2 separate regions of the Homo sapiens genome follow, and region 1 is linked to region 2. The links come from fine-mapping of genetic effects on gene expression. A gene starts in region 2. The other region holds a variant in brackets. All regions are shown on one strand. Distances are from middle to middle.

What was found. PIP is the estimated chance that this variant, and not a neighbour inherited with it, causes the effect. A credible set is the group of variants that fine-mapping cannot tell apart.
Region 1: its variant is the best candidate, but not a certain one, in a credible set for the expression of SNAP91 in spinal cord (GTEx, PIP 0.52).

Annotation. Positions count from the first base shown.
Region 1 is chr6:83,607,841-83,618,266 of GRCh38, reverse strand. It overlaps SNAP91 (synaptosome associated protein 91), which reads left to right. Exons shown (of 30, transcript NM_001242792.2): 10 at 1,228-1,298; 11 at 3,405-3,410; 12 at 7,590-7,617. Among named protein-coding and RNA genes, the nearest start is that of SNAP91, 96 kb to the left of the region's middle. The variant A/G (reference allele first, on the strand shown) is at 5,902.
Region 2 is chr6:83,704,109-83,714,534 of GRCh38, reverse strand. SNAP91 (synaptosome associated protein 91) reads left to right here and starts at 5,434. Exons shown (of 30, transcript NM_001242792.2): 1 at 5,434-5,690; 2 at 6,578-6,737. The coding sequence starts at 6,608. LOC105377879 (a long non-coding RNA gene) reads right to left here and starts at 5,093. Exons shown (of 3, transcript NR_136251.1): 1 at 4,816-5,093. RefSeq lists silencers at 5,162-5,221, 5,552-5,761, 6,171-6,465.

The DNA of each region.
Region 1 (10,426 bases), 96 kb after region 2:
TATCTAAATTTACATGTTTTAGTTCACTTGGTAATTTACACTTATAATAATCACATAATTACAAATATAATAATCACATGAATGTTAAGACAGTTTTAAGAGTCTATTAGTGAAATGAAAAATGAATATTAAATAAATGTCCTGAATTTTCAAAATTAAAGATTTTTAGTAAGAATTTCATTCTGTCATTAAAGGTACAGTGTAAAAGATACAGTTATATGAATGTCTGTGAATTCTGTGAGTTCCTTTATCAGTTACCATAGTTACTTCAATGTCCTTCAAAATTAATTTCACATTAATTTAAAGAAGAATTGTCAGAATTAAATATACCTATAAGGGTAGTTATATATTTCATTTAAGAAATGCTATTCTTTGAATGCCTATGCTGCTGTTAAGGTCTAATTTGTATTACAACTATTTGAGAAAGATGAAATGAAATCTCTAATGCTTAAGGAATAGATTGGGTGAAAAATTTGCGTGAACCTATTATTTCTCCTTAAGTATACAGTGAAATGTCATCACTTTATATTGCCTAAAATATTATTTATAAAAGGAAACATTCAAGTATTTCTTAATAAGAGTTGAAACTTATTAAATTTGCCAATACACAGTGCTCTGATATTATATTTGCTAAAAGTTACTTTATTATACATATAAATATATTTTTATATATAAATAGGTCAATAATAAAATCTTAATTGTTATTGATTATTAGAATTATATTCTTTTCCCCACAACTCTCACTCACCACCTTTTTAAAATATATTTAAATGGTTTTTCCTAATATTTCAGACAAACATAGATAAGTGAGATTTTACTGTATTTTCAAATTTCTGTAAATTTGTATTTGGGCACTCATATTTTTGACTTGAATACAAACACTTATTCATTTTTACTATGGTCTTATGAGAAGGAGGTGGTGAACTTGATTTGAGTTTACTGCATATAAGTAATGTATTAGTAAAAGTCTATCCAATGTAATCTCTACACTGAAACCACACTGTAATGCTATTTGTTATGCAGTGGAGTTAAGTCTATTTAAGATGGGTCTGTCTGAAAGTCTATGGAATTTAAATATTTAAATACTAAAAGAACCTGCAATTAAATTATCTCACATATATATCGGGGTCCATCCACAGACTTCCACCATACAGTTACAGTGACATTACAGTGTGTTTACATTGAAAGTAAACAATGCAGACATTTATTTTTACTTTCTTATTGTAGGCTCCCAGCAGTCTTATGGAGACGCTTGAACAGCATCTAAATACATTAGAAGGAAAGAAACCTGGAAACAAGTACGCATTAGTTGTATATTCTAAATAAGATGAAAAATACTACAGTCGTTCTTCTAAGAATGAGATTTATCATGGTACAACTTATATTGCTCTAGTTTTAGGGTATGCTTTGTTATAATTTTCTGGGCTCCCTCAGAACCCCTACTCTTCCTATTAACTTATGACAGTGGGTATAGACAATCTCTCTGCAGGCTAATGCAGCAAATTAGTAGATTGTACCTACATTAACTGAACCTAATGATTTGAACATTTGCCTTTAGAAGGAATTCACAATATATGGAAAAATAGTTACTCCTGTTTAAAAATCAAAGCTGTTATCATTGGACATGAGTGAAAACAAGCACAATTTCACAAGCAGCCTTGAGCACTCTATTATCGTTATCAACCCCACTGTGAAAAAAGAAAAGCCCTCAAGTATAGTTTTTTGGACTCCAGTATCTCCCTACTTGAACTATTAGGCATGGCATACTACTGACATTTTATTCATAGATCCTTTTATATAGAGAATAGCAATCAAGCAATGATAAGTACAGTTTTACTAGATTTTCATACCTCTGTGTTTGAGTACTTATATTTTTGACTATTTTTCCTCACTACATGCACGAAATGTCCAGGTTCCTTTTTTTTTCTTTTTCCATCTCTCCAGCAGGTCTGAAACTTGTCTATTCACAAGGCCTGGTGTTTTCCAATCTTTGTGCCTTTTTCAGACTATAATTCTGCAAGTCTTAGGATGCCCATCCTCCTTGTCCTGCTTTGTAAATCTTATGCATCCTGGGAAGGCCATCTCTAGTCCTACCTTCTCATGAAGCCTTTCTTTATCTTGAACTGCTCAGTATTGTGGCTATTTCTTTTTTTACATGTATGATTTAAGTAGATTTTCTGAATCTAAAGGTTAGGGACTATTTTATACTTCATTATGTCCATTTAAACACTTAATGTATGTCCTCTACAGGGAGAGCTTGGAATCTGTCTCTGTTGATGATACCAGCTTTCTGTTTATTCCATTTTGGTTGACAGCAGGAGTTAGTAGAGACAACCCGTAAAATGATCATTTCAGGGCTGTAGGCTGATCACAGATTTTACCTATGACAGAGCTATCAAAATGCAACTATTTTCTGACTTTGTTGCCTCTGGACATTCTCCCAGAATCTAGGCTTGTGTCTTGATGTTACTTTTTTTTTCTGGTTATTTCATTAGCTGTGTTATTTCTATAATATTTTTTCAAGTTAGTGTAGAAATTATTGCGTGTTTTAAATTTGCAGTGATAAGCAACAGTATAAGAGTATTACAGACAATTATGGCAGAGCTATTTGGAATGATGGATAGTAGGAGCTCTCAGGGGCTCTTTCAAGGTTGTTTCCACAGTCCAGGCTCTGCCTCCAATCTCAGCGTGGCCGGGGATGATCAGACTTGACATGAGAGTACATTAGATCACAATAAGAGATGCCCTAGTTCAGTTATTTCTAGGCCCACCCTCTATTAGGGTATCTGGGAAGCCAAATGAGTTGCCTAGGATTTAAGCAAATGGAGACAGGAAGCTGAGAAATGTTTCTGTTCCTGTGACAGAAGGACCTCTTTAGCTAAGGAAATATGTACATCCGCTAAAGTTAAAATCTCTGTCTTGTGCAGTGCTGGATGCACACTGTAAGTCAGCTTCTCTGCACTCTTCCACTCAGGGTCCCCCAAACCCCATATAGGGCCACACCCTTCCCTTGTTTTTTGTTAAATCTATCAGTGCTGCAGTCACAGAGAAGCCTCCTTGGGTAGCTAGAATGGGTCTCATTAGCCCTGACTTCAAATCTAAATTCGCCCCCTTGTGGTCACCACAAGCTATTTTTGGAAAAAAAAATAGCTATGGACATTTAGTTACATTTCTAGAGAAGTGAAATTTAAAATTCAATAGTCCTCCATTTCAAATTACTTTTTTCTTAGAATAATTTTTCTTTTTCCTTTAAAATCATTTTATGCTTGTCATATTTCTCTTCTGAATTGGCTAAAACCACATTTGAACTTGTCTTTTGCTTATTCCCTATTTTTTAAAATAAATGAACTATAATAGTTAACTATTCTCTTCTTTGTATGTTTGTGCTTACCTTGGAACTTAAGTGAAGGGTGAGTACTGTATGGAGTGAGTTTTTTGCATTTGGTAATTACTAAAAATGCAAAAAACACTCTTAAGATTCCACATTTGGTATTTAGAAGATTTAAAACTGATTTCTGTCCCTTTTACACATCTGTGTTTTTTCATTATGCTTTATTTTTGTCTCCCAAGTTGACTAGCATAAATGGTTTTACTTTCTTTCGGTCTTCTTGGATATAGACTAACAGTCTCTCTTAGATGTATATATGTATTTATATTAATATATTCCTCAGATTTTAGAAATGAAATATTTTTTATTTGTTTAGTAAACAAAAGACTTCCCCATGGCTTATAGCATAAATGCGAAAAGACAAATTTATAAAGAAAATTAATTACTTAAAATTGTTTTATTTGTCTTCTGGTCACAGTATAAAACTATTCTAACCTCCAAACCAAGTATATACATAAATTGAAGCATTTGCAAATGTCTGCTATGAAGAATATGTATGCCCTTTATATTTAGTACCTTGTGTCCACTGCTGTTTATTTCTGTAATTTTATGCAATACTCTGTGATATACCTTTATATATTGTCTGTTTCTATAATTCCACAGGACAAAAGAGAGAAATTTATTTTATTATTTATGTGGGTTTACTAAGTGTTGAGGTTACAGGAAATTTAAGATAAATCTTTTGTAATTCAAGTTATTTGAAGGATGTAGATAGATCTTTCACATCTGTATTTTTTTCTGGCTAGCACTTATACTCAAAATTATGTAGGGATTATTGTTATGACTCATATAAAACTTAACAAAATATTCTATTTGACAGCTTCCTGTTAACATCTTGGAAAGAAATATGGACATTTGCTGTGTTCATAGTGAAACCCATGAGTTTGTAGTAATTTTACAGAATTTAGAGTAGATTACTTATATGGGTCATTCATTTTCTTCTAAAATTACCTTAATGCCTTGTTTTTCCAACATGGTTCATTATCTACTAGATTTTTCTAGGTGAAATTATTAATAGAAGTATTGGTCTTTTTAACAAATATTGTCTATATGTAAATGATGTAGTATCTTCTTTCCTAAAGGGCAATGACTAACATTAGGGTGGAAAATCAAGTGAGAAACACATAAGAAGAGCAATTTATATGTTGTGTAAGAGAGAAGCAAATGTGCCAAGTTTATCTGTGTTTTGGGGGTTGGAATGTGGACTGAGCATAGGCTCTGAGGGGCATATAGACTTGGACTAGAGTCTGGAATCCACCGTTAAAGCATGATGAGACATGGGAAAGTTATTAACCTCTCCGAGCCTGGGAACCTTCAGAGTTTAATCAGTGATTAATGGTGCTTTTGAAAGCTATGGCCCCATTGGAGCACCTCTGGTTCTCAACCTTTTAATTAAATCATGGCAGAAGCCAACTCTGGTTAGAAAACAGAGGTCACGCATCCTGACAGTTTTGTTTCACAGAAAATAACTTTTTAAAGACGTCTGGTTAATTTATTGATTATAGAATGAATACCTGAACATATTCTAATATAAAAATTCAAATAATACAGAAAATGTCAGATGATATGTAAAGTGCTAGGGATATAAAACAATGGGATGAGTTCCTTCCTTTCAAAAAACTTAGTATCTAGTGAAGAAGATAGAGAATTAAACAGGCAACTAAGATGTAATGTGGTAAGTGGGATATCTCAACAGAGACAGTAGGAGGGTTTTGTTTGTTTGCATAATTCATGGGATAACTGCAAGTATCATTTACTAATATTGTTTATGTGGAAGCTTGGCAAAATGATTCTTGTACCAATTATGATTTTTCATACTTAAGTATGATACTCTTTTTTATAGCAGGTAGAACAATTCTATCATTTTTATTATATCTTCATTCTTGCTGTGGGGTAGAAGATGTTATAGAAGAAGTTATAATATTTTAGGTATTAGTTTGGAAATGTATTTCTAAAGCTGTTGATATTTTTTTTTTTTTTTTTTGAGACTGAGTCTCGCTCTGTCTCCTAGACTGGAGGGAGTGCGGTGGTGCGATCTCGGCTCGCTGCAACCTCCACCCACCAGGTTCAAGCGATTCTCCTGCCTCAGCCTCCTGAGTAGCTGGGATTACAGGCGCGTGCCACCACACCCAGCTAATTTTTATTTTTTATTTTTTTGTATTTTTAGTAGAGACAGGGTTTCGCCATATTGGCCAGGCTGGTGTCGAACTCCTGACCTCAAGTGATCTGCCTGCCTTTACCTCCCAAAGTGCTGGGATTACAGGCGTGAGCCACCGCACCTGGCCTCTTCTCTTTTCTTTATTAGTATTTATAATTGTATCAATACCACTAAGAATTGGTTTATGAAAATTGCTTGAGAGAGAAACAAATTAATTTAAATTAATTCATTCTTAGAAAGTGACCATACCAAAGGCTTCTATGTTTTCTTTGTAGAATTCATGCTACTATTTTCTTGAATTTTTATTTAGATTTAACTCCCTTCCTTTTCCATACGTAAAGGGAAAAAATAGTGG[A/G]AGTGGAGAAATTATTAGCCAAAACTCACTAGGACATTTCCCACCGTATGCTGTACTAGATTTTTAGGTTCTTAAGGAATTTACTGTAGATATTTCAGTAGACCCTTTGACACGGACAGTATAGATAAAGGTATATCCTTTCCCTCATAGACTATATTACTCTTAAGATAACATTTAGCCAAACTACATGTAACCAAGTTGTTACCCTTATGCTTGTTATATAGCAGAAATCTCTGTGCCCTTGCTACCTGTTGTTTATATTCATTTTAAGTAGAAATTAAATTCAAACAGGAAATGGCAGGCATGTATTTGCAAATGAAGTTGAACTTAAAAGATATTAACTTGGGCCTGGCGCGGTGGCTCATGCCTGTAATTCCAGCACTTTGGGAGGCCGAGGCAGGCGGATCATGAGGTCAGGAGATCGAGACCATCCTGGCTAAGACAGTGAAACCCCGTCTCTACTAAAAATCCAAAAAAAAAAAAAAAAAAAAAAAAAAAAAAATTAGCCGGGCGTGGTGGCAGGCGCCTGTAGTCCCAGCTACTTGGGAGACTGAGGCAGGAGAATGGCGTGAACCCGGGAGGCGGAGCTTGCAGTGAGCTGAGATTGCGCCACTGCACTCCAGCCTGGGTGACAGAGTGAGACTCCGTCTCAAAAAAAAAAAAGAAAGATATTAACTTGGCATATAATACTGTTAAATTTGCTATATCCAATAAGACAAAAATTCATAATATTGTACAAAATTCTACTTACTAAATTTCTGCTGTAATTTTGTTTTGCTGCTGCTATGTGTGTGATATTTTCTCTGTAGATGAGTAAAAAGTCATCCCTGCCATGCAGTAAGGCGGTGAATATAGGCTGCTTATTGAAATGTATTTAGTCTTCATCTTGTTTTGTTATTCATTTTTCACTAACTGAAGTTAGTAAAATGTGAGCTGTTCTGGCAGTTATTTCTGAAGCACTTTCCTAGAAGTGATCTGCAATAGTCAATGCTACCAGTAATATAACTTAAAATTCACGCCTTCCTAATTTTCCCTCATTTTCTTAGAAAAAAGCATCGAAGTTGCTGTTTTTTTCCTAGCTCCCACTAATTATAACAGGATGATGGGAATATTTTTCCTAGAATATTCTTGCTAGAGTTTTTATTACAGCCATGGGGGGGGAAAACAGACTTCAAGAGTATGAATATGGAAGCCGAGACATATTTCAGCACAGGGCCTGTAGGGATCTTCACAGTGTACTTTAACCTAAGTGATTTAAACCACTGGGTGTTGGGGTTTGTCATAATTCTGCAAAGCATGGTTTTTTCCAAGCCTTCTGAAAATGGTTTTAAATTCCCATTTAGACAGTTTGTTTTTTATGGACATAGGCAATAATGTTTGACTCAAAGAATTTGAGTTGCGAGAGATATGGAAAATAATGTTGAATTTAAGTATTTCTAGTACTGGAAATTAAGTAGATGGAAAACAGTGGAAGGGGGTGTCATTATTAAGTAAAAGATTAAAAGTTTTTTAAAAATAGCCTGTCCATTATTTTAAAAGTCTGTATATAAAACAAGTTAGTGCTTGACCAAGTGAAATCCAACTTAAATGCTTCTACAAATATATTCACATATATATTTATATATATATATATATATATATATATATATATATATTCAGTTTTAATTTTTTTTTATGTTGCCTTTTAGATCTGGTGCTCCCTCTCCATTAAGTAAGGTAAGTTTGGTTTTTTGTTTGGGGGTTTTTGTTTTTTGTTTTTTACCATTTTACCATCATAAAGTGTACAGTTCAGTGGCATTATATACCTTAACATTGTTGTACAACCATCCTCTCTATCCATTTCCGGAACTTTTTTTTTTATCTTTCAAAACTGTAACTATACCATTAAACAATAACTCCCCACCTCCCTCTCTCCCCGATCCCCTGGCAACCACCATTCTACTTTCTGTCTCTATGAATTTGATTACCCTAGGAACCTCATATATGTGAGCGCATATAGAATCTGTCTTTTAGTGACTGGTTTATTTCACTTAGCATATCTTCAAGGTTCAGCCATGTTGTACCATGTGCCTGAATTTCCTCCCTTTTGAAGGCCGAATTATATTCCATTATATGTATATACCACACTTTATTCATGCATTCATCCATCAGTAGATATTTGGTTGCTTGTATCATTTGGGTTTATGAATAATGCTTCTGTGAACATGGGTGTACAAATATCTATTTAAGTCCCTGGTTTTGATTCTTTGGGGGTATATACCCAGAAGTGGAATTGCTGGGTCATATGGTAATTCTAATTTAAATTGTTTGAGGAAAGGTAAGTTATGTTTTTATGTATCCTCCTTTGTATTTGTTTCTAAGTCCAATGTAGTATAGTATATGTAATTTAGTCCTTTGTTTGGACTAAATATTTTTAAAGTTGGAGAGATTTTCACGTATTTATATTGCAACAGAAAACAAATGTTATCAGTAGAATGTTTTAATAGTTGTAAAACATTTTTACATATTCTAAATCAGAGTCGTATGAGGTAGGTAATGTGATATTGTGCATGTTTCAAAGGTAGAGAAATCCATTGTAATTGGGTGTCTTTCCACAAATATGCCTTTTAGACAGTTGACTATAATAACTTTAATAACTCGTTTACCTCCTTGTCTCTTTTTTACCATGTGAAAGGACAGGATTAGGGTTATTAGTGACAAGAGTATTTACTTCTATAGGTCTGTAGTTCACATTTACCATTGTATTCTTCAGACAAAAATGTAATAGATGTGTTTTTTCCTCTTTGACAAATTTCCATTATATAATTGCTGTCATTACAGATATTCAAGGATATCATTATGGCTGCACTGGTGATTTCCAGACACCATGTACTATGCCAGTGATGGGTTGGCTGGCTGCCTAAGATCCCCTCAGGGACCTTGAACAATCAGTCAGATAAAACAAACAAGTGAAAAGCTCCATTTATTCTGATATAAGGCCAGGTTTAAAACCATTATGTCTATGTGAAAAACTCCAATATATGACTGCTGAGTAGAGTGTCGTAAAATTGTGGCATCCTTTGGGTTGGTCTGTTTCTACATTTTGGCCAAATTGAATTTTTTTTTTTCTTTTTCGGCCAAATTGAATTTTACTGACTTTTTCTTTTTGTAATAACAGATTATTTGGGTTCTGTTTTCCTAGCTCTTACATCTCCTCAGAGCTTGTTGTTACAAGGCATTTTTTAATGGGCTTCTGTAGAGTTTCATTTTTTGCATTTATGTTGATAATATTTATTGCTGTCAATAAGTTCTCAGTGTTTCATCAATATCATTTTTTCTAAACTTATTTACATGCATTGGCTTTTAAAAACCTTTTCTTAGAGGATTTCTCAGTGTTCCCAATGGATGACATACAATTAGCTTTAACTAGTCCTTTCTCTTCCATTGATCATGTTTTGTATTCCATTTGGAAGATTTGAATTTTTGTTGAAGAGAGAGTTCTGAGTTGATATTTTCTGATTAACAACATCCACACTGCTCATGTGTCCACCTTTCTTGAAGTGCTAAATGCTTGGCACTTGCATAACTATTGAATTTTGACTTTTGGATTAGTATATTCTTGGACAAACATAATATTTAAGTCTGTAAATTTCTGTAAATTTCTGATCTCCTCAGTTTTTTTTTTCCTCAAATTATTCTTTTTAAAACTTCCTTTATGTTTGGTCTCTTTGAAGTCAGATGCCCAGTTAGGGGAGTATCTGATAGCCCTGGCTTGGTCTTGGTCTTCATGAATCTTCCTGCTGTTATGTCTCATCTCCACTAACAGAACTAAGTATCAATACATTGTTTTGAAATGTTCCATTAATCTTTCTCTTGTGAATGAATGGAGAATTAAATATACCAGACAAAATTGTTTAGTTACAGTAACTAAATAAAAATCTTGTAATATATTAATTGACTATTAATACCTCTTCTTGAAAAATAAATACTAGATTTTATTTTTACCTTTTTAGTTTTATCTATGTCATCTTAGTGATGGGCTATAGTCATGATATCTTCAAAACATCAGTGACTTGAATCTTGCTTGTGAATCGTTCTCTTCCAACTGTGAACTATTTTGCAAGTTAGATTTCTGGATTTGAAGGTCATCTGAGAGGACCTCACATGAAATCTTTTTAGGATGACAAGAAAAAATAATGACATTGGTTTTTTTAGCAATTATTACAATTGATAATTTTTGAAATTTTTTGCAGCTAGTAAGATCTTTCCTAATAATTTTATGTTCAGGAAATACATTTAGCTTTTATTTTAATTAATGAATGGAAGTCATTGCAATGTTAAGCCAAATATTTTATCATTTTATATAAATTACATTTAAAATTTGTAACATGTTTTAGCCAATATTGATTATTTATTACAATCCTTGATTTCAAATTTTATTGAGTTTTTTTTTCCTCCACAAAGAATTACAAAAAAAAAATTGCTGGGCATGTCATGGTTATACAAAGAAAAGTCCTGCTGCCCTGTGTCCTGTAGATTCATATTT
Region 2 (10,426 bases):
GTTTTGCCTAAAATTCAGGTTAGAAATGAATTCAACATGACAACTGGCATGATAAAAGGAACATGTACATTTTACATGCCTAATGGCACAAAAACAATTTAAGTATGTTATTTTCATTTGCTTCCCAGTTTTAAATCTATTGTCTATTGCTGTATAACAAACTTTGTGGCATACAACAGCAAATTTTTATTCTTTCTCACAATTTTGTGAGTGAATAGGACTCTGCTGGGTAGTTCTCCTTTGAAGTCTTTTATGTAGTTGCAGTCAGGTGACAGCTGGTCTGTAGTCATTGGAATTCTCCTCTGGGCTACCTGAGATGGCTTATGCACTTTGACATCTGGCAGATGAAACTGGCTGTTTAAATGAGAGTTGGGCTGGGGTTTTGACCAGAGCACCTACGCAGGGCATCTCTGTGTGTTTGGGCTACTCATGTAGAGTGGTTCAGGGTAAACACATTTCTTACACGGTGGCTGGCTTCCAAGAGGGAACATCCCAAGTTGGAATGTTCTAAGAAACATAGGTGGAGGCTATAAGGTTTCTTATGACCTAACTGCCAAGCATCAGTCTGTTGTATTTTATTGATCAAAAGCAAGTTACAGAGACAGCTCAGATGCAAAGGGAGGAGATTTATTGGGGGACTAACTACCACAGTGACACACAAAAGTAAACCTTTGTGACGAATCCACAGAAACCTCTGAGAGGTATAAAGTTAAGTCTTTCATACAAGATTCATTGAATAAGAATCAGGGTGGTTATTCTTGTACCAATGTGTTTTTTTCTACTTTGACAGAAAAGCATTCCTGGAATGAAATTCACCCTATAGTTTTACCTTGAGAATATTATAGATTTAGGAGAAAGGTATAAATTTTCTAATTTCACCTCAGGTTGTTATCTGAGCCAATCAAATTATCTTCAGCTTTATTTTTCTCTGTTTCTTGTACACGTGTTGTATCTTACAAATAAATTGAAATCAAGAACTTGAAGACACTTGCCCTCGTGCTGAAATAAATTGTTGGTCTACGTGTAATTATTGTTGGCTTGATTTTTCTGTATTAAATCTGATACTCAGAAGAAAACATGTGTATTACATCAGAGACTTAGCTGGGTATGGTGGCTCACACCTGTAATCCCAGTGCTTTGGGAGGTCAAGGCAGGAGTATCACTTAAGGCCAGGAGTTCAAGACCAGCCTGGGCAATAAAATGAGACCGTCTATACAAAAAGTAAATAAATAAATAAATCAGAGACTTACAAAAAATCTGTTTAGTAGCATATATGCATTTATGTATATTGGCCCAGAAAATAAATTCAATTTTTTTTTTTTTTTTTGAGACGGAGTCTCAGGATGGTGTGCAGTGGCATGATCTCAGCTCACTGCAACTTCTTGAAGTGATTCTTGGGACTCAGCTTCCCCAGTAGCTGGGACTACAGGCACACACCACCATGCCCGGCTAATTTTTTGTATTTTTAGTAGAGGCGGGGTTTCACCATGTTGGCCATCCTGGTCTCAAACTCCTGACCTCAAGTGATCTGCTGTCCTCCACCTCTTAAAGTGATGGGATTACAGGAATGAGCCACCGCGCCAGCCTCAATATGTATTTTTAAAAAGCAGTTTGGGGTGTTTATTATAATTACCCTATTTTCTGACCACTGAGATCAAAGATATTTCAACTTGTAAAATATTAAATGTCAATTCTTATTCTTGCCTAAGATTTATTGAATATCATTTATTACGTTCCTGTGCCTTCAAAGAGAACATGTCAACAAGTAATTTTTTATCTCAATATATTTCTTTCTTTTAGTCTATTTTCTTTCTTTCACTTTAGTATATAACATTCATGGATGTAACTCTAGATTTTCCTGGCTGTAAGAAGCCAGCATCTCCAAATCTTTGCTACTGAAAATATGCTACTATTTTCAACGCTCATTAAGATCTTCCAAAACAACCCACATTTCATATATTGGTTCCATCCTTGACATTATTTATTGATTATTTATTATAAGAATATGATACTTCTATAGTTGAGGGATTTTCAAACATTCTGCTAACACTATGTCAGGATGTTTATGTGTGGGATATTCTCCCATGTATAGTACCAGAGACATGGGTAGCATACCAAGAATAAGCTCTGGCTTCAAATACTTCCCAGTGTATTGTATGTAACTGCACACTATTATAGGATTGACTTTGAATCCATTCCAATCTATTTTGAAAAATAAATCATTCACAGATTGCATTATTTTAATTATTATTGGAAACATGTTATTTGCTCAAAACCTCTTAACTAATAGCAACATATGTGACATTACATCATTATTGGACTGTTGGAGAACCATTATTTTATACTACTTCCTCATTTTATGTAAATTGTCCAACTTATTGCACAATGTTGTTTATAACATTCTCTAATTTTTTAATGTCCATAGAATTGATTTCTCCTTTCACTCCTAAAATTGGAAATTTTTGCCATCTTATTTTTTCCTTGCTCAATCTGGCTAGTGGGGTTATCCATTTTGTGATCTTTTCCAAAAAATGGCTTTTGGTTTAATTGATTTTATCTATTATTTGTCATTTTCTCTTTCATTGATTTGTACTCTTTATTACTTCCTTCTTTCTGCTCATGTTGAATTCAATTTATTCTTTTTCTAGTGTCTTAAGGTTCAAACTCAAATAAATATTTTTAGATCTTTCTTCATTCCTAAGCATTTTAATGCTATAAATTTGCCTCTAATCACCACTTTGCCTGCAACCCACAAATTTTGATATGTTGGATTTTCATTATTATTTAGTTCAAATAAATTTCCAATTTTCTTATGAGAAAATTAGACCTATGGGTTATTTGGAATGTGTTGTTTAATTACCAAATATTTAGAGATTTCCATATATCTATCTGTCACCGATTTTTAGTTAAATTCCACTGTGGTAAGAGAACATAATGTGTATGATTATAATCCTTTTAAATTTATTGAGACTAGCTTCATGGCTTAGGATCAGTCAGTATGGTCAATCCTGGAGAATATTCCATGCACACTTTAAGAAAGTATTCCACTACTGTTGGGTGGACTATTTTATAAATGTCAATTAGGTGAAGTTGGTCTGCAGGACTATTTCTTTCTTTTTTTTTTTTTTTGTGAGACAGAGTCTTGCTCTGTCACCCCAGCTGAAGTGCAGTGGCGCGATGTCCGCTCACTGCAAGCTCCGCCTCCCGGGTTCACGCCATTCTCCTGCCTCAGCCTCCTGAGTAGCTGGGGCTACAGGCACCCACCACCACGCCCAGCTAATTTTTTTTTTTTTTTGTATTTTTAGTAGAGACGGGGTTTCACCGTGTTAGCCAGGATGGTCTTGATCTCCTAACCTCATGATCTGCCTGGCTCGGCCTCCCAAAGTGCTGGGATTACAAGCATGAGCCAACCGCGTCCGGCCTACAGGGCTATTTCAAGTCATCTATACCCTTACAGGTTTCCTGTCTACTTGTCCTATTTATTACATAGAGAAAAGTGCTGAAATCCTGAAGTATAATTGTGGATTTGCCTGTTTCTCCTTTTAATGCTATTAGGTTTTGCTTCGTCCTACTTTGAAGCTCTGTTCTTAGATATACAAACAAGTAGAATTGTTCCATGCTCTTAATGAATTTTTCATTATGAAATGTGCCTGTTTATTGCTATTAATATTCCTTATTGTAAAACCTACTTTGATATTAATATTGCCACTCCCAACTCTATCAGATTATATTGAGGTATAATTAACAAACAACAAAATTCGCCAATTTTAAGTGTACAAATTGATGAGTTTTGAGAAATACATGCAGCTGTATAATCATCATCACCGTCACGATATAAAACATTTCCATCTCTCCAAAAAGTTTCCTTCTGCCCCTTTGCAGTCCCCTCCCCCAATGCCACCGTCACCTGACTCGGCACCTGATGTGTTTTCTGTTTCTATAGTTTTGACTTTTCCAGAATGTTACATAAATGAAATCAAAATAATAAGTAGAATTTTTGATAGAGCTTCTTTCCCTTCGTCTAATGAATTTGAGATTCATGAATGGTATTAGTTTGTTTCTTGTTATTGCTAAGTAGTATTCCATTATGTGGATATACCATATTTTGTTTATTCATTTACTAGTAGAATAACATTTGGCTTTCCTCCAGTTTGGGGCCATTATATTAAGCTGCTATAAAACTGGAGTACAAGTTTTTTTAATAGAATTGCGTTTTTATTTCCCTTGTAAATATGGTAAGACTAGTACTTGAGACAATAGTGCTCTTAAGCTGTCTCTCTTTAGTCATTAAGCTTCCAATTAGTCCTAGAATCAGTCTCAGTAGTTAGGAAATCATGACTGCATACTGAACACTGTACCAGGTGAAAGAGAGGAATATATAACAAAACGTTGAGATCGATAGGTATCGATATATGGCTTCAAGGCCGAGCAGAAGCCACCCGAAGCAAGGAGAAAAAATGCCAGGAAAGCTCACAAATATAGTTTTGATCTTCATGCTACTGTGAGAATTAAAAAAAAAGGTGAACATAAATAACAACCTTTGAAAATGTCAACACGTGAAGCTATTAACCAACTCCACATCCCTGTTTAGAAATTCCTGCTTACTATTCGAATATACACTTGACATACAATTGACGGACGTTCCAACACTATATTTAATTGGCAGAAATTACTTCTTAAGGGTACAAAGGGTTTTCTTTATGCACGCAAATGATTACTGTCGAAGGTAATCTGGGACTCGATTAACGGCTGTGTTAATTATTCTCCCTTCAGCAGACCTCAGTATCCGTTTAAGACTAAAGTGGCTAGAATTACCTGCCCACCCGGGCTCCCAGTTGTAACTGAGACAAGCGGAGGAGCCTGAGGAGCTGAAGACGCACAGGTGACGGTCGCGGATGGCCGGCAGGATCTGACATTTAAAATCGCCCTGCTCATCTGGGCCTCGGAGCCTTTGACAGGCGGGCGTGTCAGCGACAGTGTGGGGAAGGGGCTGGGCTCCGCCAGGCAGCGCGCGACGACGCCCTTGCCTTGGCCTTCACAGAGTAGAACCCGAGAAGCCCACTCGCCCGTCTTGGCCAACGCCCCCAACGCCCAGGGCTCCCCCCGCAGTCGGCGGGCAGGTGTGCGTGGTGCGCGAGCCCAGTGCGTGCCGGGTGCGGCGCCAGCAGCGGAGGGGCGGCCCGGCGCCCAGCGGAGAGCCGCTGGCTGGGTGGGTGTCGGCCTCCCCGCCTCCTTCTTCTCCCCGCCGGCTTGCCGGGGATGCTTGCGCGAGGCGCCCCCTCGCCTTTAAGCTCCCGGCCCCGGGGGGCGGTGTGTGTGAGTAGCTGGGAGGGGGCCGCGAGGCGCTCCGCCGAGGGCTCGTCCGGGTTTGTCCGCCGCCGTCACCTGACTCGTCGGAGGAGCCACAGCTGAGGTGGGGGCGGGGATGGGGACGCAGCTCGGAGCGCTAGAGAGACGCGGCGGCGCTGGCAGAAGAGGCGGCGGCGGGCGGGTACTGGCTTCTGGGGCCAGGGGCCAGGGGCGGTGGGCGCCGGGACCGCGGAGCTGAGGAGCGGGGCCCGGCCAGGGCTGGAGACTTTGCGCCCGGGGGCACCGGGGCTACGCGCGGTCGCACACATCCACCGGCGCGGCTTCCCTCGGCGGCCCGGGCTCCGCTCATCCTGCGGCGGGCGGCGCCGCTCAGGGGCGGGGTGAGTACCCGCGGCCGTACTCGGCCCCCTCCCCGCGCCAGGGTCTCGCGGGGATCCGCAGAGGATAATCCCAGGGTGCGGAGAAGGGCAGCGGCCGAGTGACAGCTCCGCGGAGCGCTCCAGGGCGGGCGGGGGACTGGGCTTCGCTGTCAGCCCGGCTCCTCTCCAAAGCCAGGAAGGGTGAGGCGCCCCAAGACTCCGGCGCCTCCGCAGAGCTCCCGGGCGGCCCCTGCGGCAGGGATTTGGAACCGGGGGGAAGGGGCCCGGGCGATGGGCCTCGGCGAGGCTTTGGAGCCGGCGGCGAGGAAGGAAGGGGAGGCGAGGGCATAACATGGCGCAACGCTAGGATAATCTCCTTCGCGACTGAGGGAGGACGAGCCCTTTGCTGCAGCAGCGCGAGGAGGAGGAGGGAGGCAGCCAGGGCTTGGGTATCCGATGCATTCCCCGAAGCCTGCGGGCTGCTAGGAGGAAAGTCTGCTGAGGTGGGAGATGGGCACCGGTGGGTGCGGCGCCCAGGGAATAACCCCAACGCACGTTGTGGCTAGTCCAGCACCCGCGGGTCAGGTTGCGGGGAAAGTGCTGATTGACAGGGGGGTCCCCAGGGGGTGAGTCTGGCCCTATGTGGGGGCCGGGGGAGAATGGGGACGGTGTCACGATGCTGCGACTGGAGCCCACGCTGGGGTTCCGTGACGGCCCTACTCACGGCCAAGACTCCCTGGACCGCATCGCAGGAGCGGGGCTTGGCGCGTTGCTGGCTCCGAGAGGTGGTGCCAGGGTGGGGATGGAGGAGGAGAGAGCCGCCGCGCGGCTGGAGGAGGCAAGGCCTGGGTGCTTGGAGGGTAGGGTCTGCGGATTAAAGCCGGACCGTCTCCCCTTGTTTCCTGCAGAAGAGGAGGCGGTAGACGCGACCACAGAAGATGTCGGGCCAAACGCTCACGGATCGGATCGCCGCCGCTCAGTACAGCGTTACAGGCTCTGCTGTAGCAAGAGCGGTCTGCAAAGCCACTACTCATGAAGTAATGGGCCCCAAGAAAAAGCACCTGGACTGTAAGCATCTCTTTATATAAGAGGGACATGCGCACGGCAGAGGCGCCTGGGATGCTGGTGGTGCGGCCTGCGCTCTTGGTCCATAATGCTGTGGCCTCTGATACTCCCAGCCAGGTTGCCCCTGAGCTGAAATTCTTCAGCTGTGAAGGTGTTCCCTTGGGTTAGCCATGAAACCTTGTCTTGTGAGCCATTTTTTCCTCTTATTGACCTCCAAGGTCTTGGTGGAGGGGGAAAAATACACACACACACACACACACACACGCATATGTATATACACACACACAAGAGAGAGATTGTACACACTGAATTAGATGTTTTTCACCTTTTTTTCTTTCTCCACCCACCCTCCCTTCTCCAAATTAGAGGAAATTAGAGGTTGCACAGTCAAAAAAAAAAAAGATGAATTTATGGAAGGTCAAACTTGTCACCCTAGTTCTTTCCTAAATACATTTCAGATAGTTCTAAGGTAGTATAATCTTTTTAAGTGTTGCTCCTGAGGATTGTTTTTGTGAGTATGGGTGTGTGTGTGTGTGTGTGAGGTATGTTACCATACCAAACTGAAATAAATTCAAGGTACTGAATGAGGAAATTGGACTTCATAGCTATGGCAATTTCATTTTACACATCCTGGCACACTTTGTCCCATTCTCAGAAAATGCTGGGTGAGATGACTATGCTATGGTCACAAAATGGATGTACTTCCCCAGCATCTGAGATGGTGCAATTTTAGATGAAACCGTTTAATTCTTAATATTATTTTTGTAACTGGTTATTTGATGGAAAAGGCTTTATTCTACTCTGGAATCTATATATTTCTGAAATACCTTAATTAACAGTAAATCTTTTGTCACCGAAGGATAAACAGAGGCACTTAGAAAAGAAAAAGGCTTTCACCTGCTTTGGGTGGTGAGGTTTCTCATAAGTCAGGCTATATGAGTGTATGTTCAGCAGTTGCTATTTAGTTCTCTTGACCTGCTTAGGATCTTCTGTTCTATTGTGATGTTTTTGGTAAAGGTGAATGTTGGCATGAGAGACACAGGTATGGCCACAGCCATTTCCTCAGCTGGCTTCCTTTGCCCATCTTCTGGGTTTTTTTGGTCTTGGGTCTTTTTCCTGCTATTTCCTTTGTGCAGCTAAGAAAATGGCACCAGTGTCAGAATTCACTCTAGCCCTATTATCTGCATAAGCGAAGCTTGATGAAGCTTACAACTGGACATTGTAAGAGTTGTCCAGCCTTGTGAACCTGTTGTCTCATAGAATTGAATAATTTTGTTTCTAGAAGCTCATCGGAGGGGAAAGTACCATTATGCCTTTCCCAAGGGAATGTTTAACTAAATTTATTGATTACAGCATTATATGTTATATATGCAGTACAGGATGAAAGAGGCCACCAGGGCCAGGGCACCTAAGAGAAGTAGAAATTGTAAATTTGTGACCAGATCACTTTGCTGCAGCATGCTGAATCATTTAGCCATTTTCCCATCAGTTTCCCCAACTCTGGAAGAATGATTCATGTCTTAAAGGTATATATCAGTCTAGAAAATCCTCATAATAAGAAAGGTATAGGTTATGAATTTGCTACATGCTGATCTATAATTAAAATGATAAATCAGTATACTGATATATTTCAGAGAACATTCACAGGTTTGAACATTTCATTAAAACATCATTCAGATAAAGGCTGACTTCTCCAGATCTAAATATTTAGTCACATTAGTATTTTAGTGGAAAAGTCTTTTGAAAATTTGAAGGTAGGAGGTTTTCCAATATGATTTCTAAGATGTGGAAAATAGGGGGAAGATTCCATGTTATAAAAGAAAGCAGCTGAAATAGGAACTGGTGTTGAATTATTAATATGAATGGTCATAAGAGCTGAACATTTATTGAGCAGTTACTATATAGCACGAACTGAACTTTATATTATTAATCTTTCATCACTTAATGGGTTCAGGGAGGGTAATTAACTTTCATGGCTTTTTTTTTTTCTCTTTGTGAGATGGAGTCTCACTCTGTCACCCAGGCTGGAGTGCAGTGGTGCATTGTCGGCCCACTGCAGCCTCCCAGGTTCGAGTGATTCTCCTGCCTCAGCCTCCTGAGTAGCTGGGACTTACAGGAATGCACCACCACGCCTGGCTCATTTTTGTGTATTTTTTTTAGTAGAGATGGGGTTTCTTCATGTTGGCCAGGCTGGTCTTGAACTCCTTCCCTCAGGTTATCTGCCCACCTTGGCCTCCCAAAGTGCTGGGATTACAGGAGTGAGCTGCTACTTCCCCTGTCCAAACTTTCATAGCTTTTAACCAGTACACTTAACTGCCATCTGTAGATTAGTAATATACTTTATTGAGAGAGGAGAGAAAATGAACCATATTAACCTAAATGGTCTAATCTCTAAAACACCCACCTTGCTTGCATAGCTTTCTGTGGAATTGAGCATCAAAATCCGCGTACATATTGCAGTCTTTATAATATGCATGAAAAAATTTTAATTCTATCATGAAAAAATTGAATGAAAATATTTTAATTCTGTTGCATAAAAAAATGACCAAAAACCAAGCACTGAGGAGTATTGGTTAGTGGTTTTTCTTTTTAATGTTTTACTTTTCTAATAAGTCATAAAATAAAACATCTTCTACTTAAAACCAACTTTTGGATGGAATTTGGAGACATAGTTATCACATTACTAATATGTACTATTCTAAGAGAAGATGATATGGAAAACCTGAATGTATATGTTATATGCATTATTAAGAGGACATCTTTGCTCAGAATTCTTTGTGAAGTTCCTTTAAAGAAACAGTAAACTACCTCAGTAATTTATTCACAGGTTTTCAGTAAACACCAGTTATAAAAGTGAATTGTTATTAAAACATGCAAACACATAATTAAGTTTCTTTATAGGCATTGAAGATTCTCAAGTAGTTGGTGTTTTAGTTTTGAAAATATTAAATACTGGTTGGGAGAAAAAGAGCACAAAATATAGAGTTTGGGGGTTTGAAACAAAAACAATTTCAATTTATTACTAGTTTGATTTGTATATAACTTTTTAGTTTGGAGTTTAGATTGGAAGATTATAAAAACAGATTTATGGTCCTGTCATTTTTTTTTAAAGGTATTGGATTAATTGGGCTCAAAATCCTTATGAAATATGTATTTAATATTAAGGTACTGGTTTAAATGATAAATTCTTTTCTCTTTAGGTTGATAGGCCAAGAAAATTATTATTGTTAGTCATGGTGACTTATAAAATGATTCTTAAAGATATATGATTTATACACTTGAAGAAATGATTTGTTAACATCTGAGGGCAGAATTATATCTGGTGAAAAGGTCGAGATGAAGAAACTATATACATTTATTCCCAGATTTTTTTTCTTTTTTCAGTGACAGCACCTAATAATCTAAGTAAGGATTATATATTTTATGGCACTTTTGGATTATGTAAAACTTTCTTTCCATACTCGACTATAGTGATGTTGCCCTTTGTATGTGAAAATTAAATACCTAACCAATATTGGTTTGACATTAACTTTTCTGGGTCCACCTGTACATCCTCGCCTCCTTTCCCTTGTAACTTTTTGTACCTATTTGCTAGCATATAAAACATCCAGGACTCAATGAGTATTTACCTTTTTAGTTACAACTGTTTGACACTTCAGTGTTGTCTGTTTTTTCTATTTTGTATGTGATGC